3 separate regions of the Homo sapiens genome follow, and regions 1 and 2 are each linked to region 3. The links come from fine-mapping of genetic effects on gene expression. A gene starts in region 3. Each other region holds a variant in brackets. All regions are shown on one strand. Distances are between the middles of the regions.

What was found.
Region 1: its variant is fine-mapped to the expression of GRB10 in whole blood (TOPMed, PIP above 0.99).
Region 2: its variant is fine-mapped to the expression of GRB10 in blood mononuclear cells (TOPMed, PIP above 0.99). The same link has a PIP of 0.9 or more in monocytes, monocytes after LPS, monocytes after Pam3CSK4 and monocytes after R848.

What each region holds. Positions count from the first base shown.
Region 1 is chr7:50,711,926-50,716,060 of GRCh38, reverse strand. All of the region lies in intron 4 of GRB10 (growth factor receptor bound protein 10), which reads left to right. Among named protein-coding and RNA genes, the nearest start is that of GRB10, 69 kb to the left of the region's middle. RefSeq lists an enhancer at 336-851. The variant A/G (reference allele first, on the strand shown) is at 2,567.
Region 2 is chr7:50,824,619-50,828,753 of GRCh38, reverse strand. No RefSeq gene overlaps it. Among named protein-coding and RNA genes, the nearest start is that of GRB10, 44 kb to the right of the region's middle. RefSeq lists an enhancer at 1,156-2,355. The variant A/G (reference allele first, on the strand shown) is at 1,762.
Region 3 is chr7:50,780,768-50,784,902 of GRCh38, reverse strand. It overlaps GRB10 (growth factor receptor bound protein 10), which reads left to right and starts at 2,007. Exons shown (of 19, transcript NM_001350814.2): 1 at 2,007-2,479.

The DNA.
Region 1 (4,135 bases), 69 kb after region 3:
AGCCCCCTCTCTTGAGCGCTCTCCTCTCTGCCTTGACCTTCCTGAGTGTTGAACTCTGTCTCCTTAGGACGATCCTAGGCTCTGCCTGGAAGGGAGATTCCCCCTCCCTGCGCTGCAGCTTGGAAGCTCTCTCCAGCCAGTGAGTGGGCACTAGTAGGGCTGCGTCATGTGGATCATGTCTCAGGAATCACTGTCCCATGCTGCCTGTTGTCAAATGTATGAAAACTGTTTCAGTTTTAGTTATTTAGGGGGAGAGGGTACATCTAATCCTTTATATTCCATATTGGCCAGAAGCTCAGAAGTCACCCATGATATTATTTTAACCGTGGTTCTAGGAGTAGATTTGCTTTGGAACATTTTTGTGGAGTGTGCAGACCCAGCTTTGGAACTCAGAAGAAGTTTAGACGTCATATGGTCCAAAAACCTGATTTTATTGGTGAGGAAATAGGCCCAGAGAGTGAAGTTATTTGCTCAGAATCATAGTTTGTCACACTGGCAGTTTGTAAACATTTGGCTCATGCCACAATAAGATTTTTCATACCTGAAGGGCGAGGTGAACTGTTTCTTATGGCCCACAGCAAGGTTGGGATCCACCAATTGTTCCTGCTGTAATGGCTGCCCGAGTTTGGTCTTACTGGGAAAAGTCACTCTTTGGCAGAGGGATTGAGTTTCCTGAGCCCTGGGATCTGTGCTGTTTATTCATTTTTATGAATAAAACGAGCTTTATCCAAAGCCTCTGGGGAGCATCACTATGAACCGCCGTCCTCTTGCCCTGCCAGCCCAGCCCTTCTGCTTGCACCTGGAAGCTGCTCCATGCCCTTCCCTGCTCCAGATCGCGCCTGCCCTTCAAAGGGCTGCCACACCTGGGAGCCCCAGGCTGGAGCTCCAGGCCAGACCTAGCTTACCTCATTCCGCCTCCAGCTTCTTGGCATTGGCTGCCATTTACCCTTGGCCCCCTGCCCTCTACCTGTGGGAGGGACTTAGAAATGAGGAAAAGCCACCACCAAGGATTCATCATATCAAACCCTGGGGCCTTTTCCTGGTCAGCCAGGACAATGAGAGTTATTTCCAAATTCTGAGATTATTGTTGAGAAAGTTCAAGGAAGAGATTTCTCTCTTCCTTCTGCTCATGGGGGAAGAATGTGGGTGTGTCATGTGCCTCCTACGGCCCTGATCTGCTAGGAGGGCAACCCTGGCTCTGTTGATCACTCTCACAGCCGCACATGGTTTGGTTCTCTGGTTTTAGTGTAGAGGTTGCTGGGGTTGTGGGACCCAGAGAGAAAACGAGAAGCTTGAAGCTGAAGAAGTTGGGTTCAGTGCAATTGCAATGGCTTTGTGCACCCCACCTGGGAGCTCAGGAGGGCTCAGGATTGCACTCCGTTTTTTGTTTTTTTTTTTGAGACAGAGTCTCGCTATGTAGCCCAGGCTGGAGTGCAGTGGTGCAATCTCGGCTCACTGCAAGCTCCGCCTCCTGGGTTCACGCCATTCCCCTGCCTTAGCCTCCTGAGTAGCTGGGACTACAGGCGCCCGCCACCACACCCGTCTAATTTTTTGTATTTTTAGTAGAGACGGGGTTTCACCGTGTTAGCCAGAATGGTCTCAGTCTCCTGACCTCGTGATCTGCATACCTTGACCTCCCAAAGTGCTGGGATTACAGGCATGAGCCACTGCTCCTGGCCTCAAGTTATATTTAAAGTATATAAATATAATTTGACTATAACTTGCATTGTCACTGATCCTCTTGTGGTACTTTAAAGATTGTGTTGTCAAAATTATTAAGTGGGTAGTTTAGAGATTCTGATCTTCTGATTTCTCAGACTGTTAAGTTACTCTAGAACTCATGATCGATTAAGGTACTGCTACATGTTGACTATTCTAACAAATTAATATTATGTTAATACATGTGGATATTTTGGTGTCTGAATAGTTGCCTTTTTGTTGAAGTTGGGGATGGAGGAAGTGGTGAGGAGGGGTGAAGGTAGGGGAGGAAGAGGTAGAGGTGATGGTAGAGGTGGTGGTGGAGGGGGAGGAGGATATAGAGATAATGAAGAGTGTGGAGGTGGATGTGTTGGTAGCAATGGAGGTGTTGGAGATGTAAGAGGTGAAGGGTGGTGGGAAGGAGCAGAGGTGATGGAATGGGTGGAAGTGGTGATGAAGGGGTAGGTAGTGGAGGAGGAGGAGGAGCTAGAGGTGAGGGTGGAGGTGGTAGAGGAAGTGGACGAGGTGGAGGTGATGGTGGAGATGGTGGAAGTGATGGTGGAGGTGGTAGAGGAGATGGAGGAGGTGGAGGTGAGGGATAGAGATGGTGGAGGAGGTGGAGGTGATGTGATAGTAGAGGAGGTGGAGGTGAGGATGGAGGAGGTGGAGGTGACAATGGAGGAGGTGGAGGTGGTGGTGGAGGAGGTGGAGGTGATGGGGGAGGTGGAGGTGATGGTGGAGGAGGTGGAGGTGATGGTGGAGATGGTAGAGGAGGTGGAGGTGAGGATGGAGATGGTGGAGGAGGTGGAGGTGATAGAGGTAGCAGAGGAGGTGGAGGTGATGGTGGAGATAGTAGAGGAGATGGTGG[A/G]GATGGTAGAGGAGTTGGTTGAAGTGCTGGAGGTGATGATGGAGGTGGTAATGAAATGATGGTGGGGGTGGTAGAGGAGATGGAGGTGGCGGTGGAGGAGGTGGAGAAGGTAGAGGAGGAGCTGATGTGGCAGGAGAAGTGATGGAGATGGAAGGAGGTGGTGGGAAGGGGTGGAGTGCTGGTGGAAATGTCGGGAGGGGAGGTAGTGACCGCAGAGGAGGAGGAGGCAGGGGCAGTAGTGGCAGTAGTAAAAATAGCAGCTGAGATTTACTGAGCCGTGCTTTCCATGTGTGATCACACTAAATCTTCAATAGTCCTTGGAGGTTATACTCACACAGGGTGGTTTAATGTCTTCCCCAAGGTCATGTAGCTACTCTTCTGTAGAAATTCTAGAGCTAGTGCTGTCCCCCTTTCGGCCAAAATGCCTCATTGATGTGGGAATACCAGATGCAAAAACAGGAACAAAACTGACTTGGCAAAGGCATTTTATTTTGGGAAAACCATTTGTCAAGATTGACAGGCTCTGGGCAGGAGGTTTCTTTGTAGGGTGATGGAAATGTTCTAAAATTAGATTGTGGTGATGGTTGTACAGATCCTTAATTATACTAACATTCATTGGTTTGTACACTTCCAACAGATGAAATTTATGTTATGTAATTTATATCTCAATAGAGCTGTTTAAAATGTAAATGATTGATAGACTCCTCCCCTTGTGAATAACCAGAATTGATGTTTCTGTGCTGAACACTGCAGAGTGGGTGGTTAAAGTGAGGCAGCTCATGCACTACTTTTGCTTTTAATTCAAGAATGGCTGCACTTGGAGGTAGTTATGTGGAAATAAGTGCCTGAATATGGAGTACAAGCCACTGATCTGTGTGTTTTTTAGGCCGTATGATTTTAGTGAAAATGTGATCATTTTTTATGTGGTGGTATTTTCCCTGCCAGGCCAGGCATTCTTACCATTTGGGAGAAAAGTTTTTTTGTACTCTGACCAGGGCTTGCCCAGATATTTTCATGTTGGCCTCAGCAGCCTGTGTGAATACAATTGTAAGTAAAGAGCATCCCCCTTGTTCCTTGATACGAGACACCTGGCTTGCTGACTTTTCTTTTTCCCCCATCTCAGGCTTTTGGTGGAAGCAGCTCTTGTTTTTGTTTAAGGATCAGTTTGACTGAAATCTCTGCTTAAAAACCTCTTGCTTCCTTTCCTCTTGCATAGACCTAAAGTGTAATATCAAAACAGGCAGTGTCACTTTGGGTGAGAAAAATGGCTCTGGCTCATTTATTATGAAGGTTATTTCCATTTGAGGGACTAGTTTTGTACACCTTGCAACTGGCAGAATAGGAGTGCTGATACTGCAGCTTTTACCAAGTTCACTAATGTTTTAGGATTTTTTTTTTCAGCCTTTTTCAGCCTTGTGGAGTTTCTGCATGTTTTAGGAATTCTCTGAGTGACAGATTTTGTAGTTACCCATAGCTCGGTTGTTAAGGACATGTTCTCTGATTCAGCCCCAATGGGTCTCACACCCACGCTTACGAGATGTGATTCGCTGGGCAAGCTGCTGTCCTCCT
Region 2 (4,135 bases), 44 kb before region 3:
TTTCTTCATGTTTATAATTTTTAAAAATCATATAACATTTCAAAGAGTTAAGGTTTCACTTAAAAAAAAAAAGACCCCATTGTGGAACACATAAATTGTTTCCCATATTTCTCTATTAAATAATCAGACTGCAAAAAACTTATGAATCTGTCTTTAAAAAAACTTTTTTAAATTCCTTAGGTTACATCCACAAGTGAGATTATTAGATCAAAAATCCCACAATTTTATGGATGTTGATTTGTATAACCTTTTACTCTATTACTTATATAAATGTACCTATTCCACTATATCTTTATGATCATTAGGTTGTAGTATTGTTTTCGCCTTATTAAAGTGATATACAGATAATCCCCAACTTACGATGGTTCAACTTAAGGTTTTTCAACTTTACAATGGTGCAAAAGTGATACACATGTAGTAGAAACTGTACTTTGAGTACTTATACAGCCATTCTTAGTTTCGCTTTCAGTACAGTACTCAATAAATCACATAAGATATTCTCCACTTTTTGTAATAGGCTTTGGATTAGATGATTTTGCCCAGGTGTAGGCTAATGTCAGTGTTCTGAGAATGTTTTAGTCTCAGCTACAATGCTCAGTAGGTTAGGTGTATTAAATGCATTTTCAACTCACTATATTTTCAACTTATGATGGATTTATTGGGAAGTAGCTCCATTGTAAGTTCAGGAGCATCTGTATTTATACTTAGATTTGTGCAAAAATTCATTAAAAATCTGTGTAATTTTGCATAAAGCATAAATCAAGGGTGATTACTAGATTCTAAAAAGTAGTCTTCTGAAGTGCTTTTAAAGTTTGATTTGTTTCAATCAGCATAATGGGTGTGTCTAGGTCAAGTGTGAGGATTATATTTTGGTGTCCATCGAAGTAGGTGGGGTGTAAATTCTATGAAGGGCCGGACTGGCAGAAAGATGTGGTCCTCATGCTAGGTACTTCATGTAGTCATATGCACAATGAGCTTAAAAAGCAATTGGAGTGTCTTGGTCCATGTAGGTGGAACATTGAAGAGTGTCAAGAAGAGCTGGATGGGAGGTGCTGTCATACAGGCAGGGCTCTCTCTCAAGGTCAGCTCTGCCTCCTGTTGTATTGGCTTCTTCTGAAGGCAAGTTCTCTCATGAAGTGGGGAAGATGGCCACCACCAGCTTCCCAGTTTAGCAGCACAGGGAAAGTGAAACTCTCCTTCCCAACATACACATAGCCACCTCAAGGGAGGCCCTCCTGGCCCTGTGGAAATGCATACCCTTTGCATCAGTCCTTCCTCCTGTGGCCCACTGGGGGTGGTGTGCTGATGGACAACCTAGGACCACAAGGGATGGGGAGATGAGTTCTTCCAGGGATGGGGGATCCTGGACAGACCAAACAATAAAAGTCCCCTGTGTCATGCATCCTCATACAATCCTATGGCTGAATTAATAACTGAATTAAGGGAAATTCCAGATCAGCCTGAAGCATCCTGTAGCATCAGAGGACATGCTTTAAAAAATAGGAACACATCAAAAGCACACAGGAGTCATCCTGAAACAGTACCCAATGGCCAAAGCTGGAACAATCCATGAGTCTATGCCAATATAAGTAAACATGTGAATAAGCAAATACATAGGGAAAAAGAGACAAATCTTTCTCACAGAAGCACCACAAGTAATACAGGGGAGCATTGATGCAGCCACTTCTCCAGGAGGTGGGGCTTCATTGCTCTCCTAGTGAGTGTGGACTGGACCTGGTGACTCACTTCCTCTAGAAGGGT[A/G]TGGAAAGAGAAAAATAGCAACTTCACAATGCAGTAATCTAGCGGATGCCACCACAACCAAGGGCTCAAGGTTAACATCACCAGACTTGAGTCATGGTGAAGTCATGTGCCCCCGAGGCGAGGCAATGAGAAGGGCACTTCACCCCATGGCACTCACCCCCAAAACATAACCCCAATCGATCACAGAAAACATCAGCCGAACTCAAAGCGATGCACATCATCCAGAATGCCTGATCAGCACTCCTCCAAAGGGTGATGGTCTTGAAAAAGAAACAAAGTCCCAGAAATGGGCATAGATGGGAGGAGATTAAGGAGACAGCCTAAATGCACTGTGGGATCCCGGATGGAATCCTGGAACAGAAAAGAGGCATGAGTGAAAAAAACTGGTGAAATACAAAAAAAGTCTGGAGTTTAGTTAGTAGTATTGTGCCAGTGTTAATTTCATAGTTGTGACAAACATGCTGCGGATATGTAAGATGTTAACAATTACAGGAAACTGGATGGAGAGTATAGGGAAACTCCCTGTATTATCTTTACAGCTTTTCTCTAAATCTAAAATTATTCCAAAATAAAAAGTTTGAGAAATTAACAGTGATTACCCATTCCATACTAGGCACTGATTTAAGGGCTATGCATATATTAACTTTTAAAAATCTTAACAATAACATTGAGGTATCTGCTATTATGATTACCACGCTAATTTTATGGATGAGGCTACCAAATCTGAGAGGTTTAGCGACTATCTATAGTCACGTGGTTCTGAGTGTGTGATTAGCGCCTAGGCAGTTTGGTTCTAAAGCCTGTAATCTGCAATCTTTAACTCTACATAACAAACTTTCAAGGAAGAGTTAATATCTGCACATTGTTTTTCCTCTTGAACACCCTTACCTTAGGAGAAAAACCTGTTCTGGTCTGCACAGCTCACAGGGGGTTCCCCTCCACTTATTCCCTTTGCATACACCTTCCTAAGACACAGGCTTTCAGATTGCAAGTGTTCCTAATCCCTAATACCCAGGCCCCACAATACTGAAAATTTCCAGAAAAGAAATGGAGTCAGCTTAGAAAAGAGAATTGAGAGAGAAAGAACCAACAAAAGGGAAATAATAAAATTTAGTGGGGGAAAGTATGAAAAGCAGTGCAAACTTGATTCCCTTACCAGAGTAACTCAGGGATTGAGGAGAAATGGCTTGCTGCCTTAGGTGTTGGTTAGAGACCCCAAATCACCCACGAGAAAAGTGCAGTGGGCCTTCAGCCTCCTGCTTTCACTCACGAAAAGCACCTGTTTTCTGCTCTGATAGAGATCAGTGAATACCAGCCACTGAATGACTCTCACGTGATATGCCTTGTGCTGTTAGTTAAAGCTCGTGCTCCTGAATTCTCACAATATTGTGCGTTTTATGCCCCCGTAGAGCAGGGGTCTCAGCCCAAACATGTCCACCACCTGATTTCATAGGGCCCACGAGCTAAGAACAGTTGTTATGTGACTAAATGGTTGAAAAATACATCTATGAAGACTATTGTGTGACACGTGAAAATTAGACCGAATTCAAACTTCAGTGTTCATAACTGAAGTTTTATAAACATAGCCTTGCCCATTTATTTACATATTGTCTACGACTGCTTTGACACCAGAGAGTGTGACCATATGGCTTGCAAAGCCTGAAATATTTACTATTTACTATCTAGCCCCTTGCAGAAAATATTAGTTGAGCCCTGGTATAGACAAAGAAACTGTGGCCTGGAGAGATTGAAAGAACTCATCTATAAGGATGCAAAAGAAACTGTTTTCTGGATGAGCCCTGGGGCATAGGTGTTCCTTACGGGGCAGGCAGGGAAGGAGGCGTGGGTGAGAAGGCTGGGTGTTTGCATCGTACCCTTCTGTGCTGAGGGTTACTCTACAGTGAGCATGGACTGCTTTGATCTTCAGGGGCCGCAAGTGGTGAGGCATCCTTCAAACCCAGACAGCTCAGCAAAGCCCACCCACTGAGTAAATAGGACTCATCCCAAGACATGAGGTTGAGGACAGTCACTCAGTTTGAATTTTTTCAGATCCTGGGTCATTTTGGAATATGACTGGGAGAATAAAAACTCCAGAAAGGCAATAAACTGATAGAATTGTAAAGGCAATAAACTGATAGAATTGTAAAGTGAAGTAAATCTTAAATGCTTTTAAATAAGTGAAAAGCAACCAAATAAGTCTCAATATATTTTCCCTCCAATAGTTAAAACACAAATTTAATGCCAAAATAAATGCACATGAATAGCCAAAACTTCCTTAAGACCTCGAATTCTTAATGCTCCAGGACTGAACTTATATTCCATGTGGTATCCCAAGGACAAGGTGTGTAAGAGGCATGAAAGAAGGCTTGGAAAA
Region 3 (4,135 bases):
AATCTTCTTGTTTTGGACTCTACGTTTCCCATTTCCAGAGGTGAATGGTAGTTCTCATTCCTGAGACTTTCTGGGCTTCCACTGAGTATATCATCAGGCTTCATCTCCACTTTCCAGCTTAGCCTTCATCTCTTTTGCCTTTGCTGTCAGTTACTTCTTGACCACTGGCTTTTATGCCTTTTCAAAGATTCTGTTCTTGTTCTAGTAAAGCAAAATGTGTGTCCTGTCAGCCATTCAGTGAAGGTCTGGCTTTTCAAGATTCCTTGTCCATCATTAGATCATTTCTCTCTTGCTCTTCCCACATCCAGGAACAGCTGCTTCGAACTGGGACCTCTGGCATTTTGTAATAGAGGGGAGTGTGGCAGGGAAGCCCTCTGTCCTGCACAACCTGTTGTTCTAGCCCAGGAGATGGCAGGGTGCGTGGGATGTTCAGGCAAAGGAGTTCACCATCCAGGCTGGGAGCTGCTGGGCAGGGAGGCAGAGGAACACTCGAGCCACCTTTGTGGGGTTGACTGCAGAGGTGGAAGAAGCCACTGTGTCAGACCGCAGAAAAGTCTCATATCTGGAGTCTGGAAGGAAAGCCAAGTTCTCCCAGTCAGTAACCTGCTCTGGACTTTGGATAAGTTACATAATTTCTCCACACTTTGGTTTCTCCCCGAATCTCAGGGTTTGATTCTGTGCTTCCATTTCCCATTCTGTGCCTTGCGATGTTCACTATGTGACATCTTCTCTGAGGGGTGCGCAGTTAGAGTCAAAAGCGCTAACACCTTCAATGTTTCTTGCAGTAGCCAGGCCATATGTGGTCAGCCCGGACTGTGAGAAAAGAAAGCCTTGTGTTACCCTTTGTGTTGTGTTGAAAACTGCTCTTGGCTGCTTTCAGAACCAGCCTTAACTCTGCTTTTGTTTGATCGACTTAAACATATTGGAATTTTGTGGTCATGACCACCGTGGAACCTCTCCTTTTGGAGTGCATATCTGCACTTTTTCCAGCCTCCTCCTCCAGTGACCTTCAGGGGCCTGACCTGGCCTCCGAGCAGTTGGACTAGGGTAGCTTTTCCACTCTTTGAACCCCAGACTGAGATGGGGTTTTCCCAGCGCCCTGCCCCTTAACGTGTGTGAATGCAGTATAGGATCTCAGTTTCAGAATCCATTGTCCACTGTTGACTGTTAGGTTCTTACTGCTGTCTACAATGTCTAGCTTTTCCTACCATGTTCTCTGCTAGAGGGGAGTAGAAAATCTGCTTACTGCTTACTGTGGCCTTGTAAACGGCAGTGAATATCTCCAAACGTTCTGTTTTGCTTCCATCATTGCAGGCTCGTGTGTATGTCTGTGGTGTATGTGTGTGCGGGGGTGGGGGAGTATGTGTGATGTGTGTGTGTGGTGTATGTGTGTGTGTGGTGTGTATGTATGTGTGTGGTGTGTATGTATGTGAGTGGGTGGGTGGGATGTGTGTGGTGTGTGTGTGAGGTGTGTGTGGGGTGTGTGTGTGTGTGAAGTGACTAGCACATAGCAGATGCTTGGTATGTATAGGATCTGTTCTTTCCCTCGCTGACTCTCAGTTTAAATGGGACCCTACTTTGTCCTCGTTGTTCAGTAACGTTATGCCTGTGGCTTCCAGAAAGAGCCTCTCCCTTCCTGGTTCTTGCTCTGACATTTTGGGGAGAAGGGTGAGACGAGAGTGATCCTGGAAGAGTAGAACTGGCCGGCCCTGCAGGTGGAAGGTTGCTCGAGCAGGCGGCATCTCTAGCTTGCCGCGGCCGCGATGTCCCCCGCCTGTCTGCGAATGCGGCGTAGCGGGTAGACATGGAGGGCTTTCGGCATCGTCAGAGTGGCCAGTGTGCGCGTCCTTGCCCATCAGGCGGGGGGGCTGTGGGGGAGGAGAGGAGGCAGTGGAGGGAACAAGGGGTTCTTCAGGGTTGCCATGAGAACCAGGGATCCGGGGATTGGGCAGCAGAGGGCCCCCGCCGGGCGTTGGGGCGTGGCCGCGTCACATGGGTTTGGTCCTGGGATTCCTGTTGTGCTCCAGGACCGGGCGCTGCTCCGTCGTCCTCCCGCTCCTCAGGAGCGCCCAGTCCCTCGGAGGCTGAGTATTGCAGCCGGGCGGCAGCCGGCTCCGCGGAGGGGCCCCCGGGCACCTGCGTGGTGATGGCGCTGGGAGCCCCCGGGCACGCTCGGGCGGTGGCGCGGCATCCCACCCTCGCCCGGATGGCGTCCCCAGAGGCGGCGTTGGCCCGCTTTTCGTGCTAGCGCGTTCGCCTGGCGCGCGGTGGCCCCGAGGCCCCGGGTCGGTTTTCTGCGCCGCAGGCCCCTGGCCGGGGCGGAGCCGTGGAGGACCAGCCCGGCCCGGCTCCGAGCGCTGTCCATGCGGAGCGCTGTCCACGCGCCGGGCACTGCGGGGGCCGGGCCCCGAAGCCCTACCCGGGCCGGCGGCGCACACGCAGCGACCCCGTGCGGCCAGTGCTGCCGCCCGCTCTCCAGGTACTCAGGTGGGCTCCGCCGCGGGCGCTGGGCGGTGGGCGGTGGGCGGTGGGCGCGAGCCGGGGCGGCGGGCGGATCGGCCTGCGCAGGCTGCAGAGGCCCCGGCCGCGGCGGACAGGGCCCGGGAGGGAGGCGGGGAGGTCTTGCCGCGCGGCCCCCTGCCCGCCTGCCGCGGGCTCGCTGCAGTCCGAGATCCCGAGCTTCGTTGCCGCCAGCCATAGGACAGTATTATGTAACCATTTTTAATCTTAATTGTTTAATATTATGTAACGAGTAATAACTGTACCCACGGAAACCCGTGACGACGATTCGAGCGAACCTCGCCCGCTCCTTCCTCGCCAGGTGGTGGGCAGCGGGTGTGGGAACCGGTTTGGGAAATGAGTGGATCTGGGCATCCGGGCTACTGCACCGGCTTTTTCTGTGAAAAACATAATGCTAGAGCCTGCCTGGAATTCTCTTAAACCTGGATGGCATATAGTCCGGTATAAAAAAGCTTTGAGTAAACACGTATAGTCAACGTTGCCTCTTTCTCCATGAAAACCTCTTTCTCCCTGGAAGGTGCATATCAGACAATGTGAATTGAGCAGTGAAGATGTGGGCATGGGGTTCGTGTTCTTGATGGAGTTCAAAAAATTGTGCATATGAACACGTAGGACGTCCTAGCCCTTGCTCTTTAGAAAAACAATCGGATCACCTGTTCCACACGCCAGTCGCCTCCTTGGTCGGCTGCCATTTGTCTGTTGATGGTACAGTCCCTGCCAGGGTGCTGGGGGGACCTCGTCTGCGGAGCCGGCACACAGGTGGCTATGGGCGGGGGAGACTGCAGTCTAAACCCGCAAAGCTCTCCTTCCTAGCCCAGTGAGGGGAAGCGTGGGTGTCTTTCCTCATTGTTCTTTTTAAGTCTGAAAGGCAGCGACTGCAGGGATTATGACGTGCTGGCGGCCAGGGCCTCGGGTGCTGCCTGGAGTCTCCTGCGTGTCTCTGCTCCTTTGATGTCAGCATCGGGGGTGGGAGCAGGGCCCACGCATTCCCCCTTTGGCCTGGGTGGGAACAGGGGAGGTGGTGGGCAGGGCCAGAAGGGCTTACTGGGATTTTCTTTCTCTCTGTCACTCCAGAGAAAGGTGGTAAAGAACACTTGTTTCAGTTTGAGGTGCTCGGCAGCCACGCGCTGAAGGACGGTTTTTAATTGTAGGGTGGGGTGTGAGTGCAGTGTGGTTCAGTCCCCTCCCCATCTTGTGCTACCTGCCGTTGTACCTGGACCTGTGAATCAGGGATAATAGTTACTATCTTGTAGGACTGAGAATGGTGCATACTAACTGCTGAGGAACATGGTGAATGGAGTTATGGTAATTGCACGATTGGCATGAAGGGGTGAGAGAAGTTCCAGATTGGTCGATTAAAATGTGAGTTATTTTTAGTGTCTCCTAAGGATTTCCATCACCAGTTGCTCCTCCAGCCATCATGTAATTACCACCCCAGAACTAGGCTTCCAAACTTCGAGAGAACACTGCATCTTTCGAATTTTGGAGGTTAGGCTCCAAAATTTGCATATTTAGGCCACAGCCTAAATTCACTGACACTTGTGTTCCCACAAAAGCCAGGCAGCTTCTTGGAGTATGTACTTGTGACTTAGTAAGAATGTCTTAGGAAACTCGC